Linked DNA regions of Homo sapiens. The protein of the gene in region 3 purifies or fractionates together with the protein of the main gene of each other region. This does not show direct contact. Each region holds a gene or a part of one and is shown on either strand. Other genes may lie near its edges. The genes, in order: GTPBP4, TRIP12, MECP2 and KPNA3.

Region 1 (7,026 bases), on a different chromosome or scaffold from region 3:
GCGGTGGCTCATGCCTGTAATCCCAGCCTTTGGGAGGCCGAGGCGGGTGGATCATGAGGTCAGGAGGTCAAGGTCACCCTGGCTAACATGGTGAAACCCTGTCTCTGCTAAAAATATAAAAAATTAGCCAGGCGTGGTGGCGGCCGCCTGTAGTCCCAGCTACTCGGGAGGCTGAGGCAGGAGAATGGTGTGAACCTGGGAGGTGGAGCTTGCATTGAGCAGAGATCACGCCACTGCACTCCAGCCTGGGGGACAGAGCGAGACTCCGTCTTAAAACAAACAAACAAACAAACAAACCAAAAAAAACACACTGGGCCGCCAGCAACCCACCCTACAGCTGGGATGCAACGGGACCCAGGAGGAGGTTCTCCCTACGGTGAGGGGGTAAGCAAGAGGATGGCAGCAGCCCTGCCACCACTCTGGACACCCACAGCCCTCACCACCGGAGCCCCCTGGCATCCTCACAGCTGTGCTCCCACACAGAAGGAGCTGACACTGGGCCCTGTCTGTTGGGCCCATGGGGCGGCTATACTCCATCATCTTGGGACTGGAACTGCGGCTGGAGTATGTCTTGCTCAGGGGAAGTGGCCACAGCTCCCCTTCATCCCTGAGGCTAAACTGCCTCCAAACTACCCAAACCTGGTGGCCCAACATCCCCAAGCCAGCTGTGAGCAGCTGCTACCCCTTCCCAGCAGGGCTTGGTGGAGGTGGAGCCCCTCTACTAGCCCTTGCTCTAGCACCCAACGGTACCCTGCCTCCTGGTAAATAGCACCGTGGCCTCTCAGGGAACGTTGTCTCCCTGCTGCCTGAGCTGAAGCAGTGCCCTGCTTCCTGGGAAATGCCCAGAATGGTCACATATCCCAGCGTCTATGCTGAAGAGGTACCTTGTATCCCAGGGCAACGGTGCCTGGGGCGCCCAGAAGAGTCACAACCCTCAGGCCCAGGCTGACCAGCCACATACCATGGGGAGGAGCTGACATTGTACTCCACACCCCAGGGAAACAGGGCAGGGGCTGAGCCGAGGCACCTGCCCCACCACGCAAACAGCTCCAGCACCTGCTCCCTGGAGCTGGACTAACCCTATATTCTGAGCTGCAGAGTCACCACTCTTTCCAGGAAATGGAGTCACTGCTGTCCTCCTCCCTGTCCTCTAGGGCCCAAATGACAGCTGGACTAGTCCATTCTGGGGTCCTTGCTGCCACCTCACCTAGCATCAGAGAGTCTGGGATACTGCTGGGCCCCACCATCCCAGGGTCCAGAGTTCCCCTTGAGCTGACACTAAGCCCTCCCTACTGGCTCAGGTTTCTGAAGTACAGCTCTACCCTGCTTCCCAGGCTCAAACCTCCAGAGTGCGTCTTCCCTGGAGTCAGGCCAGGACTGTGCCCTGACCCCACGGGTGGAGCCACAGCCACAGCCTTGCCCTGTGGGCTTAAGCTGCTAGGGGTGCTTCAGGATCAGAGATCCACCACAGAGAGTAAACCTGCACCCCAAGGCCAGGCCATGATAGGCACACAAGACCCTAAGGCTAGGACCCCAGTCCCACAGCTACCCTGAGTACCTGTAGCTGAAACCCAGCACTGTGGCAGCTGCTTGCAGACCATGTCAGACCTGACACCAAGAAAGATCCCCTCAGATAAGTCCCCCATTGCGGGAAAAACAAGAATAGCAGGACCCCAAAAGCCCCTGACACCAAGGACCTTAAAAACATACACCACCGCTGGCACAAACTTCCAGAGCTGAGGCCACTGAGCCACCCAGTTATTGCCAACATTTCATGGAGGTGAGGAAGCTGCACAGAAACAATGTCACTGCTCCTATCCAGAAAGTCACGGTTCTCTTCCCAAATGGCACAGTAAAACCCAAGTGAGGTGAAAACCTCTCCATGAAAGCCACTCTAGAAGAAAGTATAAAAGAGGCTCCTGTTCTACCAGATGCAGAGACATCAATGCAGGGACACAAGAAACATGAAAAAGCAAGGAAATAAGAAATCATGAAAGGAATATTAACTCTCTAGGAACAGACTCTAATGAAAAGGAAATCAATGAATTGCCAGAAAGAGAATTCAAAATAATAATTTTTTTGAAGGAAACTCAATGAGAAACAAAATACAGATAGATAATTCAACAAAATCAAGAAAACAATTTCATGATATGAACAAGAACTTAAACTGAGACAGAAATTGTAAAAAAGAGTCAAACAGAAATCCTGTAGCTGAAGAATTCAATGGATGAGATAATACAATAGACAGTTTTAACAGCACACTGGATGAAGCAGAAAAAAAATCTCTGTCATTTGAAACTACCTAGTCAGAGAGAAAAAAAGCAGGAAGAACGAAAAAGAATGAAGGAAGCCTATAAGATTTATGGGACAACATTAAGTGAATACATGCTGGCATTATGGGAGTTCAAGAAGGAGAAGAGAAGGGAAAAGGCTTAGTAACCTATTTAATGAGATAGCTGAAAACTTTCCAAGACTGGGGAGAGGTATAGACATCTAAAACCAGGAAGTTCAAGAATTCCCAAATAGAGTCAGCCCAGAAAGGTCTTCCCCAAGGCACATTATAGTCAAACTGTCAAAAGTCAAATATAAAGGAAATTCTAAAAACAGCTAGAGAAAAGCTTGAAGTCACATATAAGAAAATCCCCATTAGACTAACAGCAGATTTCTTTGCAGAAACCTTGCACGCCAGGAGACAATGGGATGATATATATTCAAAGTGTTGAAGAAAAAAAAGAAGACTGCCAGCCAACTATATTACATCCAGCAAAGCTATCCTTCAGAAATAAGGGAGAAATAAATTCTTTCCGAGAAAAGCAAAAACAGAGAATTCGTCACTACTAGACCAGCCTTACAAGATATACTTAAGAAAGTCCTACATCTGGAAGCGAAGACAATAATCACTATCATGAAAACATGAAAAAGTATCCAAGAAATTCACTTAACCTGTAAAGACATTAAGACACACATAGACTGAAAATGAAGAGATGCAAAAAGATATTCTACGCAGATGGAAACTAAAAGCAAGTAGGAATAGCTATACTTCTATCAGATAAAGCAGATTTTAAGTCAAAAACAATAAAAAGAGACAAGAAGGTCATTATATAATAATAAAAGGGGTCAATAATATTTGGGGACATCAACATCAGACTCGCAACATTAGACAGATCCTAGGCAAAAAAGAATCAACAAATACTGGATTTAAAGTGCACTGTAGGCCAGGCGCAGTGGCTCACGCCTATAATCCCAACACTCTGGGAGGCCAAGGTGGGCGGATCACTTGAGGTCATAAATTCAAGACCAGCCTGGCCGGTATGGTAAAACCCTCTCTACTAAAAATACAAAAAATTAGCTCGGTGTGGTGGCGCACGCCTGTAATCCCAGCTACTCAGGAGGCTGAGGCAGGAGAATCACTTGAACCTCAGAGGTGGAGGCTGCACTGAGCCGAGACCGTGCCACTGCACTCCAGCCTCAGTGACAGAGCGAGACTCCATCTCAAAAAAAAAACAAAAATAAAATAAAAAAAAAAGTGCACTGTAGACCAAACATCTACAGAACATGTCATCCAACCGCTGCATAAAACACATTCCTCTCCTCAGTCCATGAAACATTCTCCAGGATAGACCATATGTTAGGCCACAAAACAAATCTCATCAATTTTTAAAAATTGCCAAGTATCTTTTCAGACCACAGTGGAATAAAACTAGAAATCAATACCAAGAGATACTTTCAAAACTGTAAAAAAAAAAAAAAAAACCACCCATGAGAATTATAAACATGTCCCAGAATGACCAATGGATCAATGAGGAAATTAAGGAAGAAATTAAGAAGGTGATGCTGACATTGCTGGGCCAGGACCACAATTTGAAAGCCACTCCACCAGTGCACGCTTCTAAAAGCATTTATCATGAAGGATGCCTATTAAAAAGGTTGTAGGATTCAATCAGTTTGAAAAATTATGTCCAACAATACTGCCTGCCTCTTGGAGAAAGCTAGCAGGCACGTCTCACTCATAGATCCAGATCCAGAAAGCCCAAATTCCAAGATCCTCCTTCTCCTTCACTCAATCATTAGTCTCCAAACTCATTTAATCACAGAACCTGTTTTATGAAGTAACACCTGTGAGCACCCTTCTCCAACAGTTCTCTCCTAAGTAATCACATTTTCCAAAAGTCCAACCCATCAAATACAGATGCTTCCACACACTCAAGAACAAAGAATCCAGAAACTTATGTTTTCGTTTTAGTTTGCCAATAACTAAGTTTTTATTATGTCTTTTCACTAAACCACTGAGGATATTATCTCAACTATAAAATACAATTGTGGACTAGTATTGCTAAAATTCCTTCATCTAAACTTTGGTTGTCTGAGATGAGAATTCAGAATTGGTAAGTAAGAAATATTCAAAATATTAACGTGATTTACCTGATCATCTTCAGAAAGTTCAGCTATTCTCTTCACATCACATTTGTTGGCTACAACTATGAGAGGCTAGGCAAGGAAGAAAAATAATGAAATCATTATTCTCGTACTGCAGGATATGAAGCAAAACATGAGTGACCACACACACCTTGTTGATGAAGAGAGGTCTGATGTTCTGGAAGAGTTCTAGCTGCTCCCTCAGCCCATGCCCACACTGCTCAGACAAATCCATCACATACAGGACCGCAGCACGGAGGTGGGCCAGGGCAGTGATGGCCTGCATCTCGATGGTGTTCCTATCCTCCAGAGGGTGGTCCAGGATCCCAGGAGTGTCTACAACCTAACACAGCCAGACCTTGTCACTGAAAGCACACTCACCCACAAGCTTCTTGTCCAGCACATCCCAGAAGTCACTCACACACACCCAACCAGACCTAATAATCTTACAGCAGAATTGTAGTTAAAAAAAAAAAAAAGTAGGGCTGGGTGCGGTGGCTCACACCTGTAATCCCAGCACTCTGGGAGGCCGAGGCGGGTGGATCACGAGGTCAGGAGATCGAGACCATCCTGGCTCACACGGCAAAACCCCATCTCTACTAAAAGTACAAAAAATTAGCTGGGCGTGGTGGCGGGCACCTGTAGTCCCAGCTACTCGGGAGGCTGAGGTAGGAGAATGGCGTGAACCAGGGAGGCGGAGCTTGCAGTGAGCCAAGATAGCGACACTGCACTCCAGCCTGGGTGACAGAGACTCCATCTCAAAAAAAAAAAAAAAAAAAAAAAAGTAGGTCTCCCAAACTGAATACCACAAAATAAACCAGTGACAGAAAAGTACATACTATTTAAACATCAAAAAAGGGAGGAGGAACCCTGTAGAGCTCAAAGAAATGCTAGCCATGATGTTGAGAGAAATGACTCCTCTTTTTACCAGCGACATCATAAAACACAAAAACTGGGATAACTGAGAACCCTCCCATGTCTTAGGAATTACTTTCTTCACAATTTACAAAATTAGAGTGTGGAAACATTGCTTCTTGCTTTGTATTTATTTATTTTTTTTGAGACAGAGTTTCGCTCCTGTCGCCCAGGCTGGAGTGCAATGGCACAATCTCGGCTCACTGCAACCCCTGTCTTCTGGGTTCAAGCGATTCTCCAGCCTCAGCCTTCCAAGTAGCTGGGATTACAGGCACCCACCACCACGTCCAGCTAATTTTTGTATTTTTAGTAGAGATGGGGTTTCGCCATGTTGGCCAGGCCAATCTCGAACTTCTGACCTCAGGTTAGCTGCCTGCCTTGGCCTCCCAAAGTGTTGGGATTACAGGCGTGAATCACTGTGCCCAGCCTGCTTCACGCTTTTAAACTGTATATATGCCATTTCTGATAACAGAGTTAGAAATGACACAAAGATAATTTCATTTTATGTTAAGAAAATGCAGAAATCCACACTGGCAGCTGGCTGCCTCCCCTGAATTATATCAGAGACATGCGACCTGTTCTTATGCATCCCAAGAGCTCAGATGAGTTTTCTTTATGATGATGGAGAAATTTCAAGTTCTTGATAAACCAAGATATTTGTTCTGTTTAAAGACAAGACTCTTGCCAGGTGCAGTGTGACTCACACCTGTAATCCTAGCACTTTGGGAGGCCAAGGCGGGCAGATCACCTGAAGTCAGGAGTTCAAGACCAGCCTGGCCAACATGGTGAAACCCCCTCTCTACTAAAAAAACACAAAAATTGGCCGGTCGTGGTGGTGTGCACCTGTAATCCCTGCTACTCGAAAGGCTGAGGCAGGAGAATCACTTGAACCTGGGAGGTGAAGGTTGCAGTGGACTGAGATCATGCCACTGCACTCCAGCCTGGGCAACAAGAGTGAAACTCCAACTCAAAATAAATAAATGAATAAAAATAAAGACAAGACTCTCACCTGCCAACGTAGATACTTATAATCCATGTGCCCAACAAACAGAGACTTGGTTGTGAACGCATAGGGCTGGACATCCACGTCTGCTCTCGTCACCTGGAACAAGTGAGAACTTTCAGAATCACCTCATTTCCTCTGTGTACACGTGGGATCTGTGTGTTTTAACAAGACTGATTTTGGGTAGGAAATAACCATAGAAGAAACCTCACACGATAAAACTGCATCGAATAGGAGCCTGGTACCTCTCCCTTTGCACCACCAGGCCAAGGACTGGGGTACTAGGACAGCGTGAGGGCTGGCATTTGGAGGACAGCCACCACCTCCCCTCACCCTCCCAAGTCCTGCCCCACCGCCTGCAATGCCCGCAGAGCTCTTTATGATGACAGGCATGTTCTGTCTGCACTGTCCAAACCGGGCCACCAGTCATGCACTGCTAATGAACTTTCAGTATGTGGCTCATGTGACTGAGGAGTTGAAATTTTCATTTTGCTGAATTAAACTGCAATTTAAAAAGCCACCCAGTGCAGTGGCCACCAAATCGGCCACAGAGCACTGGCTCAGAGCTCAGGGCAGGTTCAGAGCTGACAAGCATTTGAAAAATCAGCAAGGACCCTGCAGAGCTTTGCTGGTCACCATGTCACAGCAACCTGTAGACAAAATAAAACTCACAAATCTATTTCAAAGCAAAA
Region 2 (7,026 bases), on a different chromosome or scaffold from region 3:
TGCGCCACTACACACACTCCAGCCTGGGTAATACAGCAAGACTCTGTCTCAGAAAAAAAAAAAAAAAAGTGTATCCTAAAGCACCATTTTTTTTAAAAGAATATGTAACTGCATATGTAAAATACCTGGTACTTATTTTATGCTACACAAACGCTGGTTCCATTCTCTTGTTTCAACAGCTTAGGCTACGATGAGAGATCAGAACTGGGATAGTGGCAGTGAAAACGGAAAAGTGATTTAATAGTGACAACAGAACACAGATACTGTGCAAGTGAATGAAATAATGGTGAAATGAGTTTTAAAATACTAAATTAGTTTGTGACTATGTGCTGAGCAGGCTTAATGGAATTATCTGGATTGGTTTTATCAAACCAGCAGCAAAATGACACTGCCAAAACTCTTGGTGTTTCCTGATTGAAACACCAAGGAGAAAATCCCACTGATTAGCCACTGGTAGAGTTGGGTTTTCTTTTAAAAATCAAGTTAACAGACTATATAAAGAAAAGAAAGCTGATCTCTACAAAGGACCAAGGCCATGACACTCAAGTACAATCTGCTATTGCCTGGCCCTAGAACCCTCCTACACATAAGAGATGAGTTCTTCAAGTGAGGCAGACTGGAAGGCAGAAGGGGAAGTGAATCCTAAGCAGCTTGCTGTAAACTCAACCTGGCTCACTGGCTGTGAATATTACATAGCAGGACTGACAGACACAAAACACAGGGAGGAAAGGCAGCATAAAAGCTGACATATGTAACTCCAATTATCAATAAAGCATTGGAAGGACAAATAGTTGGTTGTCCTTTTAACTTGGACCTTTTTTTCCTTCTCACTTCAAGATACTGATCTAGCCTATCTTAATCCTTTAAACTTAAAACATTTTATACAGATGTTCTGCATATTTAAAATACCAAAACAGAACAAAGTTCAATCTAAAAGTAAAATATGTTACTTCACAATAACCTATCATACAGGTTAAACATAAAATTTTTTATATAGTACCTACTATTAATAGTATTGTCATTTCAGGTAATATGTGAATCAACCAAAAGTAGTTTTAGACTGCAGTGTTAAATTAAACAGAGCTAATAGTTCTGATTCAATTTTAAGTTAGGCTGATTCAATATGAGCTATACTTTGACAAGAATGCTAGTAGACACTATATACAATCTTTTTAAACCAAGAAAACATTATAGCCCTACCCAAATGTAGATCTAAAATCCATCAGAGAAGAAAAGATGCTTAAAAGCAAGCTTCCTAATTAGGTATTATAAAATTAAAATGCTTTTAAAAATTGTAGAGATAAGTGCTTTATTATCCTATTTGTCCTTTATAGGTTTCTGAAATAGAAATAAGGAAAGAAGCCTGGGCACAGTGGCTCACACTTATAATCCCAACACTTTGGGAGGCTGGGACAGGTGGATCACTTGTCCCAGTTCAAGACCAGCCTGACCAACATGGTGAAACTCCCTCTCTACTAAAAATACAAAAATTAGCTGGGTGTGATGGCGCACACTTGTAATCTCAGCTACTCAGGAGAGGCTGAGACAGGAGAATTGCTTGAACCCAGGAGGTGGAGGTTGCAGTGAGCCAAGATCGTACCACTCACACCACTACTCCATCCTGGGCAACAGAGTGAGACTCTGTCTCAAAAAAAAAAAAGAAGGGAGGAAAGAAAAGAAAGACACTAGCATTCCCCAGATGAGCAGCTGGTTCCCTGAAGAAGTCTTTTGGTAAAGAGAGAGGGAGAAGAGTTCCTGGATATCTCCAAAACTGACTCATGAAGGAATGCACATAACGCTATGTTTCTTCCATCTACTTTCTGTTTCTTTGCTTGAATGTATTCTCAAAACACAAATTCTTTCTACTCCACTGTAAACTTTTAGAGAGCAATATTCTTACTCACTTAGGACACAGAGTAGTGTATATAAGAGTAGTGAAACATAAGTAGTATTCATCTTTAGACAAAACTCCTTAAAAGACTGTGAGATATTACATATGAAAAAGTTTAATTTACATTGAGGTATATTTATAGTAATAACTTAATTCACTGTATCTACACATCAAGAATATCTCATATAAAAAAATATATTTGGCCAGGCATGGTAGCTCACACCTGTAATCCCCACACTTTGGGAGGCCGAGGTGAGCAGATCACTTGAGGTCAGAAGTTTGAGACCAACGTGGCCAACACAGTGAAACCCCATCTCTACTAAAAACACAAAAATTACCCAGGCATGGTGTGCACACTTGTAATCCCAGTTACTCTGGAGGCCAAGGCAAGAGGATTGCTTAAGCCCAGGAGGCGGAGGTTGCAGTGAGCCGAGACTGCGCCACTGCACTCCAGCCTAGGCGACAGAGTGAGACTCCATCTAAAAAAACATATATATATTTGATCTCTGATCATGGCAACTCATAACTAAAAAGAACTCCTAACTAAATGATAATTTTGTATGTGGTATAGAAGAAAATCCAACTTTATGTCCCATCCTGATATTAGGAAATCAGTGAAGTAGGAGATGCCGCGAGGACCAATAAAGACACAGACACTAAAATGTGATGGTTTCGTAATAATAGGAAGGTAGTATTCCTTACCTGTCTCAACAAAACTAAATGTAGTAGCACTTACTACATGCTGTTATGTACTTAATTACACAGACAGTAATACATCTAAGATTATCTAAGACTGGGGGGAAAAAACCCTTAACTTTAAAGCATAATTGCTTTTGACAAACCAAGAGAAACTTTCTTTAATTAAAGAAAAATACCTTTTTGTAAACTTACTTGCTAATTTGGCCTGTAATCCAGAAGGTCCAGGTTTTGATGTCTCTGACTTAGAAGACCCTGGAAGAGACAGTTTTGTTTTAGGAAGGCTAACTTTAGGGCTGAAACGAGCAGCCCAATCAAATTTTGAAGAGCCACCAGTTTTACTCTGTTCCTTTTCCCTGCTACTTCTTCTGGGGCTGGGACTGGACGCTGAACGGGAACGCCTGGCCTTGTTCTGATCTTTTCCTTGTTTCACTCTGGCACCTGGTGGTACAGTGGAGGAGGCCGAGGCTACAGCAGAAGACGAGGAGGAAGTAGAGGCAGCAGAAGAAGAATCAGTGATGGTGCTACACCCAGCTTTGGCTGAGGTGGCTGATTTTGAAGCCAGCTTGGTAGGTTTCGCAGATCTCTCTTCTGCACCAGTTGATTCAGACCCGGAGCCACTCTTTACACAAGAACTCTCTGTCCTTTTTCTTTTCTGACTCCGTGAACCGCCAGTGGCCCCACTCTTCCTGGTATGAGCCTTGCTTGTTGATGGTGATTGTGCAGATTTCAGTTGTTGCTCCTGGTCTAAATGTCTCTTCTTTGACTTACTATGTGGCTTATTTGTTTCTGAGGGAGATTCAGTATGCTGAAGTGCTTTTGGTTTTTTTGCAGAGCTAGGAGAATTGGTCCTGTTGTAGTCTGGACTAGCACTGCGCTTCACTCCTCGAGAATTGTCTTTCTTAGGCACCTGCCCCGTTTTTTGTCTTTCTGAAGTATTGGCTCTGTCTGGATCCTCTGGTTGTGGAACTATCACAGCAGATGATGAACTGCAGCTTCTAAGAGGTTAGATAAGAAAACAGTTAATATCAGCCTGTCATAATTACAACTGTCATATATAATGCTTTCAAAAAATAAAGTATGAATATGTTCCTACTAAGTCCAGTATTAAACATAGGTTTTCAGAAGGTTCAAATCTGTAAAACGAAATAAAAGAACAAAACAAAAGCAGATGTGACTTTGGATACTAAAATATCTGATTAAAAGATAAGGGTGTTCTTTAGCCCAAAGATTACTGACACTAACACTCGTAATCACAAAACAAGAATTAAGATTACAAGAAAAACAACACTTAATTGTTCGGAACCAGAGGAAGCCAGAATATTGATGCCCTATTCACAAGCACAACTGCTTTGTCAAAGCTTAGAAGAAATAAGCATTAACATACGCACTTTCAAAATGAAGGTTAGAGATTTTTATATTGTAGTACTATCAAATCTTCAAAGTTAACATTGCTTTCCAAAGTCTCTTAACAATTAAATCTTAAGAATCACTGACTTAAACCTAAACTATGGCTCTGACAATAAAAACTAAAAAAAAGATTAAAAAATAAAAAGAAATAAAAAATGGCCATAATGGTTTGTTAAGCAAAGGGGGAATCTTACGGCTCTCCAAACAAAAATATCATTTTATCATTGACAAACTCACTGTCTAGGGTATACTGCACTAATCACTGCAAAGGTGATAAACTGTCAATCCTAAAAGTTACTTAGAGAATAATGAAAATATGTATCAAAACGTTTTGGAATAACCTCAAGTTTTAACATTATGCAATGATTTGAATGCAAATAATTCTGCCTTGAAAATGTATAAGCAACATGAAGATTTACCTTTTAGAAAGGTGTCCCCTTGACAGTTCAGAAGTAGTATTAGACTGCACTTTGGGTGCCTTAGAATTAGATTTTCTACTCTCAGGAGGGCTATATCCCTTATGTTTTGCCTGCCCTAAATGTGACCTGTCAGCAGAAAATCAAAACAGAAATCTATCAGGAAACTGAGATGCAAATACAATACTGAAAATGAAATATTTTTATATATTTCTTAAAGCTTCCCACAATTCATTGTTGACCCTACCCTTTTTCCAAATATTTATAAATTTTAATTATTATTCTACTAAATAATCTGGCAAAAAGAAATTGCCTCTCAGAACCACCCCCGCCCCGCAATACCGAAGAGTTTATTATCACCAGTAGTCATAATTGCACAGCGTTGTTAAGGTTGCTTAAGCAGTAACACATTTTTCAGCAATTTTAGTGCAGATATTCAAATATGCTACATTTTAACAAAAAGCAAATTTAGACTTTAGATCTAAACACACTTTTAATACATAATGTGACTGTAATGGCTTTAAAAGTTTACGGAAAAGACAATTGATGATTCCCACACTGATACCGATTTCCAATTTGTACTTAAAATTCAGGTAAACACAGCAAATGCAGAGACAGACGAACCAATTCTCAAACTGATTTTACACAGAAAATCATTTCAAGCACTAAACAATAAATAAACCTACATGAAATCAACATAGTGATACTTGCTAAAACTTTAAAGTACTTGTCAACAGAAAGAACACAAAAAAGTCCTGGAGAAATATGGAATTTACCACAAAAGTTCCAAAAAACATTCAAATAATTCCATGATTGATATGGTGCATCATATTTACAATAAATCAAATCCTTATGCCAGCACTATTCTAAAAGCAAGTTTGAGGAACATGAAAAAACTGTTTTCAGTTAGATTATTTTTTAGACCTTGGGGAATGGTTACATGAGATTTACATAAGCAATAAAAAACAAACACATGTTGATATCCAGAAAACTGCTGCCATTCGGGTGAGATATTAATGTAACAAATGCAATTTATGTAATTCATAGCTGATATCCACTTTCCACATAAGAGCATATACCAATGAAAATCTAGAAAAAAGTTTCATTAATACCAAATTTACTTGTTAAAAAAAAGTTTAAGGCTTTTATTCCAAACACCATCTCAAAAGAACTTAGAAATGAGTCACTGAAAATCTCACAAAATAATTCTAACTCAATCTGTAAGGATGCCATAAATTTCTTAAGATATCATACAAGTACAACCATCTGTTCCAAAAGAGGACCTAAGGTTTCTCTTTTCTGTATCACTTCTTCTTCCATCTTTCCAGAATTCATGAAAAGAGTCTTAAAAGAAGGTAAGAAATTAGCTTCTTAAGAAAGGAAATAGTTCCTGGATCCCTCATATCATTTTTGTTTTTAAGGTTCTAATCTGAAAGTAATAATATGTTCTAAAGACTTATTAGAATAGATGAATTTCTTAAAAAAAAATAACAAAAAAACAAAACTCTAGGTGAGCCTTTCAAGTGTTATTAGTCTTCACTTTTAGTAATGAAAGGACACATATACTTCAAGAAGCATATTTTCTAAAGTTGTAGCTAAGCTGAACTTTGTAAGATTTTTTATACATTGTGTTTTTGTTGTTGTTGTTGTTATTTTTTATTTTTTGGTGTTTCAGACAGGGTTTTGCTCTATCGCCCAGGCTGGAGTGCAGCGACACTATCTCGGCTCACTGCAACCTCCGCCTCCCAGGATCATGTGATTTTCCTGCCTTGTATATATTGTGATTTAATTTTAATTTTTCCTAGATATTCTCCCATTGCAGACTAAAATTTTGCTTTAACCAATGAGTTTATTAGAGATTTAATTTCTAAGAGTTGCTTTTGTTTTTGTTATATTTCTACTAACAGATCTCAGAGTTCAACTCTTTTTTCTTCAGAAATGAGACTATTTTTCAAATCATTCCATAGTTATTCTAAAAAAGAGGTGTAACGTTCTGTTTTTGGGGTGTGGAATTTAACAGCTACAGGAAATATAAATTATGTCATTCAGGTCCTCTACATTCTTATTTTCTTAAAGATCGTTGCAGACTGATGTTTTAATTAAATCACGTTTTCTACTTTATTTCATTTTAAAATTTAAAATATAGCTTGTTGCATTCCTTGATAATTAAACAACTCATTCTGAAAGAAAACTACATACATTCAAAGCTAGACAACTTTGTGAAAAATAAATGCCCAAAACAATTAAAAATTATGATTCATTCCATTTGTCATCAGAAACCGGCCCATATGAAACTAAAGGTGAGGTCTGGGGCAGCAGCCCTCCTCTTTTTAACTCAAATAAATTGTTCTGTTGACTTTTATATAGCTTATGTTAGATCCACCTAATTCTACTCCTGTGTTATTTCTCATGCCCTTACTAATACCTTCAATGAACTTAAGAACTTAGCATGTAAACTCTCTATATTATACCACAAAAAGTAAACAGTATTCAAATCATTTAGAAAACCAAGGCTCACAAAACTGGCTTAAATTCAGCAATGCCCAGCAGGGCACGGTGGCTCATGCCTGTAATCCCAGCACTTTGGGAGACAGAGGCGGATGTGTCATGAGG
Region 3 (7,026 bases):
AGGCCCATTCTGCTGGTTGGTGCCTGGGCCTGAGTCACCATCTAGAACATTCCCAAGTTTGAACTCAGGTACGGTGCTCAGTCTCTCCAGGAATCAGTTTCAACAAGATAATCCTTTGCTCACCCTTCTCATGGAATTAAATGAGGCTGTCTGCAAATGTCATTTGAAAACTGCTAACCTTTTTGGGATCATTTAAAAGGCAGAACTGAAACATGCTTCTTCACCCCTCTGAACCCCTAGCTCTGCAAGTTCCTCTGCTTCCGCAGCTATTCCATCCCCAGATAAAGACTTGAGGTGTGGAGAGGATAGAGGGCCTGCTACCTTGAGAACTTCCCACTCAGGGCAGCGACCTCTGTACACGGTCATTTCAAGCACACCTGGTCTCAGTGTTCATTGTTTATGTTCCCCCCGACCCCACCCTGGGCACATACATTTTCCTGCTCCATGAGGGATCCTTGTCCCTGCCCTCCCTGCCCTGTAGAGATAGGAGTTGCTCTTACTTACTTGATCAAATACACATCATACTTCCCAGCAGAGCGGCCAGATTTCCTTTGCTTAAGCTTCCGTGTCCAGCCTTCAGGCAGGGTGGGGTCATCATACATGGGTCCCCGGTCACGGATGATGGAGCGCCGCTGTTTGGGGGAGGCAGAAGCTTCCGGCACAGCCGGGGCGGAGCCTGACCCTTCTGATGTCTCTGCTTTGCCTGCCTCTGCGGGCTCAGCAGAGTGGTGGGCTGATGGCTGCACGGGCTCATGCTTGCCCTCTTTCTCTTCTTTCTTATCTTTCTTCACCTTTTTAAACTTGAGGGGTTTGTCCTTGAGGCCCTGGAGGTCCTGGTCTTCTGACTTTTCTTCCCTGAAGTGTTAAACAAGTATGTAAGTATCACAGAGAACATGCCAGTCTGCAGAACAAGTGAGCAGAGGCAGGCTTGGACCCCCACCACATGCAAGGCCCCAGGCCATCATACACTCAGATCTTGATGTCCTTCCCCAGGACAACAGAGACTCGGGCCAAGCTGGGACCCAAATATTTCTTTAGGAATTTGGGCTGTGGGTGGTGCTGGCCGGTGTGCCTGACCTGCACTGTGGCCACCCACAAGTCTCCTAGCACTGCAGGAGAATCAGAGCCCTTTCCTCTGAGCGGAAACACTGCGGCTCCTGAGCATACCACCCCAGCATGAGTCGCACTTCAAGGGACTCTGGGCTCGATGGCTGACAAGAGGCCGTCGACTGCTGGAAAGGGAGCCAAATGGGGGAGGGGTCTCCTTTGTGAAGGCCGGGCCTTGGGTGTGTTTTTGGTTTTCTAGAATGAGGCTCAATGAGGCACACAGTACAGTGTCATGGAAAGCACACACAGGTTTGGAGCCAGCCAACCTGCACTGAAATCCTTTGCCGCTTTCCAAACATGAACCCAGCAAATGACCTCAGCATTCTGTGCTTCAGTTTCCTTATCTTGACAACAGGTAACCCCATCTAGGCATCCTTACTGTGAGCATCACAGGAGAAAAGGCACAATGGCACTATATAAATATCAGCTAACTCAGGCCACAGGAAACTACCGCCTAGGGTCCTGGGGGTGATAAGACAAGTGGTCCCAGGTGGCGTGAGCCTCTAACACATGTTCCCTGATGAGGAATGGCCTCGGCCACAGCAGATGCGGAGGGAAGAGCAAGGAAAAAGGTGTGGTCCAGGCAGAGCCATACATCCCCTTCCTGCCGGTGGAGAAGAGCACCCTACCTATTCTAGTGTGGGAGGCTTCCCCGTTCTTTTCTGGTGACCGAAGCAGCTCCTTCTCTACACATCACTTTGGCCCGGTGGGGTCTCGTCAGAAATGGCCACCGTGAGGCCCCACACCCCAGCATCACTATCTGGCCATGATGCTCTAGTACTCTGTCGAGTATGCCACCGTGAAACCTCCTAGGACTCCAGAGCCTCTGCAACAACAGGGGCAGCTTGGAAAGAAGCAGCAGCCACCTGCGAGTCCCTTCGTTAGCAGTTCATTCTGGAAAAGAGCATGACTACTCCCACCCTCCGTGTTCTCAGCCCCACAACTCCCCTGTCCCATGTGGTTCACATCAGTGCTAGTCACCGCCTTGCGGCTGGTCTACCCCAAGAGACTTCCCCTCTTGTCTACACTGCACAGACTGTGCAATGAGGGCACCATGGCACTCACTGGCAAGCATCCTTAGGAAACCAGAACTCAAATGATGTAGGGAAGTTACCAAAGGCTGCTTAGTGCTGGGACTCAGAAGCTGCAAGGACGTATCTCTCCAGAACCATCAGGTCAGGTGTAGGGAGGCAAGAGATGTTCCAATCTAGTGACAAGGTCTTAGAGTGAGGGAATGTCTTGTCCCCACCATGACTCACCCCTGAGTTCCTCCCTATCCTGTATCTTCCTCCAGAAGTTTAGGGCCCAGAGTGTGGCTGCCAGAGTCACCTAGAGCCACTGCATACACAAAGGCATCCTACAACCCACAGAGCAGTCTTTCTTGCTGTAAAGAGGGGTCCCTAATCTGTCCCAGCACAGAGCTCGCCTTGTTTTGTTTTTTGTTTTTTTTTTGAGATGGAGTCTCGCTCTGTTGCCGATGGCATAATATCGGCTCATCGCAACCTCCGCCTGCCGGGTTCAAGTTATTCTCCTGCCTCAGCCTCCGGAGTAGCTGGGATCACAGGCGTGTGCTACCACGCCAGGCTAATTTTTGTATGTTTAGTGGAGACGGGGTTTCACCATGTTGGGCAGGCTGGTCTCGAACTCCTGACCTCAGGTGATCGACCCGCCTCAGCCTCCCAAAGTGCTGGGATTACAGGCGTGAGCCACCGTGCCCAGCCAGAGCTTCCTTTTCATGTCTCTGAGTCTTACAGCTCTCAATGGGAAATGACGAAGAACCCTGGAAAGCTAGGTGTGGCCTGTTGCCCACCAGAGATCAGCCTTTGAGAATGGACCCCTAGGCAGCTCCCCAGCTCCCCATAAAGGAGGGAGGGAAGGGGAGCCACCAGCAGAGTGGGCCAAGAAAGCAGACAGATGGGAATCGCTACTTCTACACAATCCATCATGGCACTGCCTAACGCCAGGGCTGCTCCCTAGAACCCGGACGGTCCTAATGTCAGAGAAAAACAGTGAACTAATGGGAAAGATCTGGCTTCTTCGAAACTCTCATTTGCATTTCCCAAATACCTTAATCACCATGAGGTCAAACTATAAACCTAAACGTGACGTAAGGAATGCCTTCTAGAAATCTATGCTAAAGAGACACCTCCAGAAATCTCAAAGAACATATGCATGATGTTATTTGCTACAACATTATTTTTACCAGCCAAAGGCTTCCAATACCCCCGATCCCTATCACCAGGGCACTTGCTGAATAAACTTATGGTGCGCCCACACACTGGAGTACTGTGCAGATCCAAAGGGACTAAACAAGAGCTCTAAGAACTGCGATGGAGTCATTTCCAGGATCCACTGTGAAGCAAAGGGAGCAAAGCGCAAACATATCTACTGCATTCTACCAAAGAAAGAAGGGGGGGTATTAAGGAAGGACACACCAGGAACTAATGAAATTGATTCCCTGCATGGGGTAGGGGGAAAAAGGTAAGGGTACAGGCACAGGAGTGAGGCCTAGCTGAACATGCCTCAGTGTAATTCTGACTTCTGAATCATGTAAATGTTTATATTACCCAAAATAAAATTCAAACTAAAAGTAACAAAACCTTATTACACTTAATGCAAATAAAAACAAATGAGTTCGGGCCAGGCATGGTGGCTTCAGCCTACGATCCCAGCACTTTGGGAGGCCGAGGCGGGTCGATCACCTGAGGTCAGGAGTATGAGGCTGCAGTGAGCCATGACTACATCACTGCACTCCAGCCTGAGTGACAGAGCAAGACCCTGTCTCTCTCTCTCTCTTTTTTTTTTTTTGAGACAGAGTCTTGCTAGAGTGCCATGGCGTGATCTTGGCTCACTGCAACCTCCGACTCCTGAGTTCAAGCCTTCTCCTGCCTCAGCTTCCCGAGTAGCTGGGATTACAGGTACCTGCCATCACGCCCGGCTAATTTTTGTATTTTTAGCAGAGACGGGGTTTCACCATGCTGGCCAGGTTGGTCTTGAATTCCTGACCTCAGGCGATCCACCCACCTTGGCTTCCCAAAGTGCCGGGATTACAGGCATGAGACACCACGCCTGGCCAAGACCCTGTCTCTTAAAAAAAAAAAAAAAGAAAAGAAAAAAGAAAAGAAACAAATTTAATTCTATATCAAATTGACAATATACCACAGAGAAAAGATTTATTTCAAATGACTTTTGACTACAGTGCTCTGCAAACCTGTAGTGGGACATATTCTAAGGCCAACAATAACACTCCAGGGGCAGTAAACACACTAGATTGGCTCCCAGGAGAGATATGTGATTCTGCTTCTGGGGCATCTTGTGCCAGAAAGCCCGGGGAGTGCAAGAGAAAAACAGGGAGGGCCCATGAGAGGCCTCTAGCAGTGGTCCAGGTGTGGCCCAGGGTGGGGGCAGTTGAGGATTTGGGGCTGGTCTAGGTGGTGAAGCAACAGAGCTCGCAGGTGGATTAGTGTGGGGGTGAGGGGCAAGGGTGAGTCAGGGACCATGTCCAAAGCCTGGGAAGATGGTGGTGCCACTGATTGAGAAGGAAAAGACTGAGGGGCCGGCTGGGTGCAGTGGCTCTCACCTGTAATCCCAGCACTGTGGGAGGCTGAGGCAGGTGGATCACCTGAGGTCTGGAGTTCGAGCCCAACCTGGCCAACATGGTGAAACTCCGTCTCTACTAAAAATACAAAAATGAGCCGGGCGTGGTGGCAGGTGCCTGTAAGTCCCAGCTACATGGAAGGCTGAGGGAGAAGAATCGCCTGAACCCAGGAGGCAGAGGTCGCAGTGAGCTGAGATCGCAAGACTCCGTCTCAAAAAAACAAAAACAAAAACAAAACCACTGGAGCGGCAGGGGAGCAACACCCACAGAGACAGTTATACCATCAAGGAGAGAAAACAGTTCTTCAGCTACTCGCTAGAAAGGGGGGAAACCCCGCTGTGATCAGATTCTGAGTTGGGCCTGAATGAAAATGAACTGTCTGCTTGGGGTTTTAAAGGCTTTTTATTGTGGTAAAATATACAAAACAGGTCAGGTGTGGTGGCTTACACTTGTAATCCCAGCACTTTGGGAGGTGAGGCAGGTGGATCGCTTGAGCTCAGGAGTTTGAGACCAGCCTGGGCAACATAGCAAAACCCTGTCTCTACAAAAAAAAAAAAAAAAAAAAAAAATTAGCTGGGCATGGTGGTGTGTGCCTGTAATCCTAGCTACTCGGGAGGCTGAGGCAGGAGGATCACTTGAGCCTAGGAAGTTGAGGCTGCAGTGAGCCGTTGATCATGCCACTGCACTCCTGCCTGGGCGAACAAACCAGACACATATATGTCTCAAAAAAAAATACATATATATATATATATATATATATATATATATATATATATATACACACACACACAAAACAAAGTTTACCTTTTTAACTATTTCTAAGTGTACAATGAATGAACTTTTTTTTTTTTTTTTTTGAGACGGAGTCTTGCTCTGTCACCCATGCTGGGGTGTGGTGGCGCAATCTCGGCTTACTGCATACAGGCTCTGCCTCCCTCCTGAGTTCAAGCGATTCTCCTGCCTCAGCCTCCCGAGTAGCTGAGATTACAGATGCGCACCACCACGCCCAGCTAATTTTTGTATTTTTAGTAGAGATGGGGTTTCGCCATGTTGGCCAGGCTGGTCTTGAACTCCTGACCTCAGGTGATCCACCCACCTGGGCCTCTCAAAGTGCTGGGATTATAGGTGTGAGCCACCATGCCTGGCCCTAAATGAACTTTTAAGAGCACTGAAGATGGGAAATAAAGGGTCTTTAACTCTACTGTAATATTCTAGTTCTTTCTAATGGAAATTACTTGAAGCAAATATAGTATGATGATTTTCAATTCTGTGCAATGAAAGGCACATGGGTGTTTGTTAATTTGCTGGCTGCTACTTTTATAATTAAAGACAAATTTCAAAAAACCCACAAAGAAGCCTGGATTGTGCTGGGTGTGGAGTGCAGGTAAAAATGATAAAAAACGTGGATGGAGCTGGAGTCCATTGTCTTCAGTGACACAGCTCAGACACAGAAAGTCAAATACCGTACGTTCTCACTTAGAAGCAGGAGCTGAATAGCATGTGCACATGGACAGAGTGAGGAATGGCAGACACTGGAGAGACTGGGAAGGGTGGGAGGGGGTGAGGGATGAGACATTACTTAACGGGTACAATGTCCACTATTCAGGTGATGGTTACACTGAAAGCTCAGACTTCACTACTATACAATATATCCACGCAACAAAACTGCACTTGTACCCTTTAAATTTAACAAATAAAAAACAATGATAGAAAACAGGTATTCCAAATGAGTTTACCCTTAGCCCAGAGGGCCTGCCCAGTCCCAGGGTGACCTGGGCATTTGCACACCCTCACTAAGCCTTCACTGCAGGACCCAAGGGAGGGAGGCTGGGCTAGGGTGCCAGGTGACTCCCCAAGGCTGTCCCCCAGGGGGTTTATGGTGTTTGCCGAAACACAAACTTTTTCAAAGAAACCTGCCAGGTGTGGTGGCTCATGCCTATAATCCCAGCACTTTGGGAGGCCGAGGCAGGTGGATCACCTGAGGTCAGGAGTTCGAGACCAGCCTGGCCAACATGGCGAAAACCCCATCTCTATTAAAAATACAAAAATTAGCTGGGCATGGTGGTGCATGCCTGTAATCCCAGTTACTCAGGAGGCTGAGGCAGGAGAATCACTTGAACCCAGGAGGCAGAGGTTGCAGTGAACCGAAATCGTGCCACTGCACTCCAGCCTGGGTGACAGAGTGAGACTCCATCTCAAAAACAAACAAACAAACAGAAAACAAAACAAAAAAAACCCCATACACCTCTCTTCATCCTCCCTCTAATCAGAACCCCCCACACACACACAATCTTGATTATGAGGAGAACTAAATAGCTAGT
Region 4 (7,026 bases), on a different chromosome or scaffold from region 3:
GCTTATTCTATTTTCTCTTCTTGCCTCAACCTCCCATTTTTTAATCTGATTCTAGACTTATCTATTTTGCCAAATTTGGAACATATTTCTTCATATTTTTTTCAGCTCCGCCTTTCCTTGTAGGGTCTCTGAAGACACAAATATTAGATCTATTGTTATTGTGCTGGAAGTTCCTGAGAGTTAATTTCTGTTTAATCTTTTTTTTTTTCTGTTATTCAGTTTGGATGATTTCTATTGATGTATCTTTGGGTTCATTTATTTTTTTTTCCCCCTTCTATCATGTCGGGTTTTTTTGCTGAGAATTCCCACTTTAAATTTGTTTCAAATGTGTTCATAATTGTTCACCAGTGCATTTTTATGATAGTTACTTTAAAATCTTATCAAGTCCTTGTCAGATAATTCCAATATGTGTGTCATCTCAATATTGGCATCTGTTGACTGTCTTTTCTCTTTTGAGAATTTCCTGGATCTTGGTATGAAGGGTTATTTTCCATTGTAGCCTACACATATTGGTGTTATGCTTTGAGACCCCTGTTTCTAGGTAAATCTAGTTACTGTTACTGCCAGGGTGGGCAGTAGCCAGACTTTGTTCTCAGACCCAGCATCTGCAGACACCTCCAGCAGGGAGGCCTCCTCACTTCCAGAGTGGGAAATGGGCTGGTAGGTGGGCTCAGCTCTTAGGCCCAGCTTCTGTCCTCTCTTTTACACAGTCTTGAGGCAAGAGGTCCAGACAAAAGCTAGAATTTAATTTTTTCTCCTCTTACAGATAATGGAAATTTTTAGTGTTCTCTGACTCTTAGTAATGCTGAAGGGGTGTGGGTTATATGTGTAGTTCTATTTTATTTATTCATCTATATCCTTTTTTGAAGGGTATGTGAATTCAGGTGCCTGCTATTATTTTAGGGCAAAAAGATGTGATGTCTTCAATTTGGATGACCTAATAGGAAACATCTTGATTTTGCATAAGCTACAACCAGTGCTTATATTCCTCTGTGACGACACCAAGCAATGCCACATACAAGATCTTTGACCTTGAATGAATCACCAGATCGCTAAGCCTGTTTTCTTCTATGTAGTTGCAAAGTTAGGATAGGCCTAGGGCATGGTTTATACTCCAGGTTTATACTTCAGTTGGGGACACATTTCAGGAGATTTTCAAACAGTTTTTTCCCCAGATGAAGTTAAAGTGCCAAGTCATTTCTTTTATTGGTTTACTTTAGTAGCCTGAAAAATTGTATTGCTAAATATGTTGGAAAACCAGTAGAGTAAATAGATGACCTTTCTGTTCTCTTCTGAACTTGAAACAGTATGGTGTGTTGGCCTCATTCTTGTAAATAGTGTTTTTCTGTGGGATTATTAGGTAGCTAATTTGTGAGGGCAGGGAGAATTACTTTTCTGCCTGTTTTTAAATTCATCTGTCTGATACATAAATGCAGAAGTTGGAATAGAAGTTTTCCCAGACTTCTGTGTCTCATTTTCTGTGAAGAATGATCTGAGGTAGGCACTGAAAGAAAGATAAGGTACTTTCTACTTAATAGATTAATCAGCTAAGCAGATATTTTTGCCACTAAGCTAAAACTTGAAATTTGGTTACTTTTTCTGTCACTACTCCTGAGGTGTGTTGAACAAGTAAAGCATTCAAACAAATATGTAAAATGGTTTTTCTTTTGTGTTTCCTGTAGATTCTTGTAGACACTGTTTGGGCTCTGTCATACTTGACAGATGGAGGTAATGAACAGATACAGATGGTTATTGATTCAGGAGTTGTGCCCTTTCTTGTGCCCCTTCTGAGCCATCAGGAAGTCAAAGTTCAAGTAAGTATTTTTAAATTTTTCTTATTTGTATACAGTTGTGTTTGCTATAACCAGTTAACTTGTACAGCTAGGCTTTAATTCTATCTGTAAGTGCTTATCTTCCACATTTCTTCTGCTAGTCCCTGAGCCTGATTTTGTTGATTTCCAAATCTTTATCTCACCCAGTTTCTTTGCTGAGTTCCACACTTGTATAGCCAATTGTTCTTGACCCTTTATACATATCATCTAAGAACTCCTTCAAGCTTTCCGTGGTTAACTAGACAGAAATGAAACGATCATCTCCCACAAACCTGCTCTTCTTCCTTGTCTACCTTCAGTGAACAGCATGGCCTAAGCTAGAAATTTTGATTCCTCCTTGCAATTCCCATTCCATTACAAAATCATTTCAATTCTTCTTATATAGGTTCAAATCTGTCTCTCCTTATCTATCTAGAACAACAGATTTAGTTCAAGACTCTATCTTTCCCCCAAATAATTGCAATAACCTAATTGCATTTCTTCTTTCTCTCTCCCACTCTAATTAGGGGTAGGCACTTATTAGATCTGTTCATCCTGCTTTACCAAAGTGACTTTCTAGGTGGAAGTGTGTGCCCATTCCAGGCGTTTATTAAAATATTATATATATTTTTGAGATGGAGTCTTGTTCTGTCGCCCAAGCTGGAGTATGGTGGCGCGATCTCTGCTCACCGCAGCCTCTGCCTCTCAGGTTCAAGTGATTCTCCTGCCTCAGCCTTCAGAGTAGCTGGGATTACAGGCATGCACCATCACACCAGCTAATTTTTGTATTTCTAGTAGAGATGGAGTTTCACTATGTTGCCCAGGCTGGTCTTAAACTCCTGACCTCAGGTGATCCCCCCCGCCTCGGCCTCCCAAAATGCTGGGATTATAGGCATGAGCCACCATGCCCAGCCTTAAGAAACTGGACTTCTTCTAAAATTTTAATTTCCTTTTATTTTTTGAATCTTTTTCCAACCAATTTTCACACAATTTTTTTTTTTCATAAAGTTTCAGTTTTTCACAAGAGACTATTTAAAATTCAGAATAGCTCTCAGACTGCTTGGTGCTTTGTGAAAGGATGAAATAAGTGTTATTTATGCCTTGCATTTTTACTTTTTCTCAGGATTATGAAAAATATAGAATTAGTCTTATAAGCAAATAAATTTATAGAAAACATTTTATCCCCACCCTAGACAGCAGCCCTCAGAGCAGTTGGCAACATAGTGACTGGCACCGACGAGCAGACCCAGGTTGTTCTCAATTGTGATGTCCTGTCACACTTCCCAAATCTCTTATCACACCCAAAAGAGAAGATAAATAAGGTAAGGCATATAATGTCCTCATTATGCTATTTCTTTCTGTGTCTCATTTTTAACTGTCTCCTTGTTTCTATTGCTACTTGTATGTTTTTCTTAAAAGCCACTGCAGCGAAGATGAGAATTATTTTAAATCACCTCTGCAAATGTTTTTCTTCAACTTTTTTTTTTTTTTTTTTGAGACAGAGTCTGTCTGTTGCCTAGGCTGGAGTGCAGTGGCACGATCTCGGCTCACTGCAACCTCTGCCTCCTGGGTTCAAGCGATTCTCCTGCCTCAGCCTCCCGAGAAGCTGGGACTACAGGTGCCCGCCACCACGCCCAGCTAATTTTTGTATTTTTAGTAGAGATGGGGTTTCACCATATTGGCCAGGCTGGTCTCGAACTCCTGACCTTGTGATCCGCCTGCTTCAGCCCCACAAAGTGCTGAGATTACAGGCGTGAGCCACCGCGCCCAGCCTTTTTCAACTTTTAATCGCTTCTGGTAGGTGCTGCCCTGGTCATCACAGAGTAAAAAACATTTTTAGACTACCTGTGTTTCTATTTAAGTAGACTGAGCATAGCAACAATCATTAAATTAGTAGCCGCTTGAAAGTGCAGACAAAATCTGCCATTTGAATGGGCTGGTATTTTTTTAAACAAACCGATCATAAAAATTTTGATCTCCCAGCAAAATTAGTTTGGACCCAAAGACGAGGTGCCTAAATTCAAGGATCATAAAAAATTACTCTTTTTAAGATTTCAAGCTTCATAGACAAGTTTATTATTAATTGTGTAATATGTACTTACTAGTATGTAATAAGTCTTCATGCCTGGCTTATTTCATCTAGCATGTTTTCAAGGTTCATTCATTTTGCAGCATGTGTCAGAACTTTATTCTTTCTATGGCTGAATAAATATTCCATTGTATGTATACACCACATTTTGTTTTTACATTCTTCTGTTGATGGACACTTCGGTTGTTTCCACCTTTTCACTATTACGAAGAATGCTGCAGTGAACATTGGCATACAAATACCTATTTGAGTTCCCGCTTTCAATTTCTTTGGATATATAACTGCAAGTAGAATTGCTCGATCATATGTTAATTCTGGGTTTAGCTTTTTGAGGAACCACCAAACCGTTTTCCATTGCAGCTGCACTGTTTTACATTCCCACCAGCAGTGTTACTAGAATTCTAATTTCTCCACATCCTAGCCAACGTTTATTTTCTGTTAAAAAAAATTACTGACAATCCTAGTAGATGTGAAGTGGTGTCTCATTGTGGTTTAAATTTACGTTTAGTTGGCCAGGCATGGTGGCTCATGCCTGTAATCCCAGCACTTTGGGAGGCCGAGGCGGGCAGATCACGAGGTCAGGAGATTGAGACCATCCTGGCTAACACAGTGAAACCCCGTCTCTACTAAAATTACAAAAAATTAGCCGGGTGTGGTAGCAGACGCCTGTAGTCCCAACTACTCAGGAGGCTGAGGCAGGAGAATGGCATGAACCCAGGAGGTGGAGTTTGCAGTGAGCCAAGTTTGTGCCACTGCACTCCAGCCTGGGCGACAGAGCAAGACTCTGTCTCAAAAAAAAAAAAAAAGGAAAAAAGAAAAAGAAATAAATTTACATTTAGTTTACTAAAGTTTTATCTGCCTAATATACTACCATCACCCAAACCCAGCAGAACTGATCATTTCTTCTTCGTCATCATAACTATATTTGTATAGTTGCTTGAGTATAATTTGACTGTTGGGTTCTTATAGAAAAGTATGGTGTCAAAAAACACATTTTATAGATACATTTGTTCCAGTGAAGACAAAGAAGCCAGAGACTTTCAGACTCTGGGCCAGTTACTTTTACTAAAGAAATTTTTAACAATATAGGTGATTTTTTTTTTTTTAGCTAAATGAATATATTCCATAATTGGAAACAACTGAGAAGTGAGGAAGCTGGGCAGAAGTCAGCAGAGAAAGGTTCCGGCCTGTGATGTAGTATGCTTTTAAGTGAGGGTATCGTGGGGGGTAGAGGAAAATTTCATAGAAATGCCATCTCAACTTCAGCAAGCAATTAGTTACTTCAAAAATTTTTTGCCTTGAAAATTTGTTACTTGCATTTTGAGACTATCATAGGACCCTGGAAGTAGAAGTTACCAACTTGATTTTCTTCCCTCAGCATTTCTGTTTGAAACTTTTTAAATCTACAAAAAATGTGCAAGAATAGTATAGTGAACACCCATGTACTCTAAACACAGATTCAGCAATTATTAACAACTTACCACAGTTGGATGGCAAAACAAATTCATTTGTGGAAGAGGAAGATACACATGTGATACTAACCTGTAAACAGCTCACAGACGTGTTTATGACTTATAAATCCCTTAGTTTTAGAATATTTATGTTATATAGACCCATGCTAGACTAGTTAGATGGTTAATTTTTATGGAATACTTGAATGACTATATCTTGTGAGTAAATATTTTTTAAAATTAAAAAAGAAATCACCTTTATTAGAAGTAGTTTTTAAGTAGTTTTAGAAATTCAGTTGTATAGTGGCTGGGCGCGGTGGCTCATGCCTGTAATCTCAGCACTTTGGGAGGCCTAGGCGGGTGGATCACGAGGTCAGGAGATCGAGACCATCCTGGCTAACACGGTGAAACCCCGTCTCTACTAAAAATAGAAGAAAATTAGCTGGGCGTGGTGACAGGTGCCTGTAGTCCCAGCTACTCGGGAGACTGAGGCAGGAGAATGGCGTGAACCCGGGAGGCGGAGCTTGCAGTGAGCCGAGATCACGCCACTGCACTCCAACCTGGGCGACAGAGCAAGACTCCGTCTCAAAAAAAAAAAGAAAAGAAAAAAGAAATTCAGTTGTATATTTATTTCTGTCTTTTAGAGGAAGCTAATGCACAGACATGTAAGCTCCATGAATAAAGATTTCTGTTTTGTTCATTTCTATAAAATCACCATTTCCTAGAATAATGCCTAGCTTATAGTAGGCCTATATATTAATGAATGGATAAATGCCAGGTTATTGGAGCCCAAATATAATTAATGGAAATTTCCTTATAACTTGTTTAAAATGGAAGATTTTGTATACCTAATCACTTTTTAGGTGCAGTCTCTTTAACGTAATTCAGGTGATTTTGTTATTGTCTATATAAAATATATTAGAAAGACATTAAAGGTATTATTTTTCAAATAAAGGTGCCCTATATTTTGTTCAATTATAGGAAGCAGTGTGGTTCCTTTCCAACATAACAGCAGGCAACCAGCAACAAGTTCAAGCTGTAATAGATGCTGGATTAATTCCTATGATAATTCATCAGCTTGCTAAGGTTGGTCATATTATGAGTTCACCGTGTCTGTTAATCTGTTAATAACCAAGACTTTTTGGATAAAGAGTCCATTTTATGATCTCATTTTTAACCTTCAGGGGGACTTTGGAACACAAAAAGAAGCTGCTTGGGCAATCAGCAACTTAACAATAAGTGGCAGAAAAGATCAGGTGAGTTTGAAAACCTGTAACTGTCATGATTGTTAATACTGGAAAGCATGCTGCTCTCTTATGTTTCGTAGTTGCTGACTGTATTGTGTTCTTTTTGGGGAAAAGATAATTATTATTATTTTAAGAGATGGAGTCTCACTATGTTGCCCAGGCTAGAGTGCAGTTGCTATTCACAGGCATGACCATAACGCACTACAGCCTCCAACTCCTGGGCTCAAGATAGCCTCCTGCCTCAGCCTTCCATGTAGCACGACACCCTACTGGGAAATAGATAATTATATAAATAAAAATATTTCTTCTCTTTTGTTGTCTAGGTTGAGTACCTTGTACAGCAGAATGTAATACCACCGTTCTGTAATTTACTGTCAGTGAAAGATTCTCAAGTGGTTCAGGTGGTTCTAGATGGTCTAAAAAACATT

What was found.
Region 1: the proteins of MECP2 (region 3) and GTPBP4 purify together in Homo sapiens (affinity purification with mass spectrometry; 4 studies listed by BioGRID and IntAct, with this or other methods). This does not show direct contact.
Region 2: the proteins of MECP2 (region 3) and TRIP12 purify together in Homo sapiens (affinity purification with mass spectrometry; 3 studies listed by BioGRID and IntAct, with this or other methods). This does not show direct contact.
Region 4: the proteins of MECP2 (region 3) and KPNA3 purify together in Homo sapiens (affinity purification with mass spectrometry; 4 studies listed by BioGRID and IntAct, with this or other methods). This does not show direct contact.

What each region holds. Positions count from the first base shown.
Region 1 is NC_000010.11:998,410-1,005,435, reverse strand, and holds part of GTPBP4 (GTP-binding protein 4), read right to left. Parts: intron 6,434-7,026; coding exon 6,341-6,433; intron 4,760-6,340; coding exon 4,568-4,759; intron 4,489-4,567; coding exon 4,423-4,488; intron 1-4,422. UniProt on the Homo sapiens protein: Involved in the biogenesis of the 60S ribosomal subunit. Acts as a TP53 repressor, preventing TP53 stabilization and cell cycle arrest.
Region 2 is NC_000002.12:229,855,990-229,863,015, forward strand, and holds part of TRIP12 (E3 ubiquitin-protein ligase TRIP12), read right to left. Parts: intron 4,543-7,026; coding exon 4,417-4,542; intron 3,586-4,416; coding exon 2,783-3,585; intron 1-2,782. UniProt on the Homo sapiens protein: E3 ubiquitin-protein ligase involved in ubiquitin fusion degradation (UFD) pathway and regulation of DNA repair.
Region 3 is NC_000023.11:154,031,703-154,038,728, forward strand, and holds part of MECP2 (methyl-CpG-binding protein 2), read right to left. Parts: intron 5,160-7,026; exon of another isoform or gene 2,222-5,159; intron 856-2,221; coding exon 505-855; intron 1-504. UniProt on the Homo sapiens protein: Chromosomal protein that binds to methylated DNA. It can bind specifically to a single methyl-CpG pair. It is not influenced by sequences flanking the methyl-CpGs.
Region 4 is NC_000013.11:49,705,679-49,712,704, reverse strand, and holds part of KPNA3 (importin subunit alpha-4), read left to right. Parts: intron 1-1,682; coding exon 1,683-1,814; intron 1,815-3,004; coding exon 3,005-3,133; intron 3,134-6,332; coding exon 6,333-6,437; intron 6,438-6,535; coding exon 6,536-6,607; intron 6,608-6,921; coding exon 6,922-7,026. UniProt on the Homo sapiens protein: Functions in nuclear protein import as an adapter protein for nuclear receptor KPNB1. Binds specifically and directly to substrates containing either a simple or bipartite NLS motif.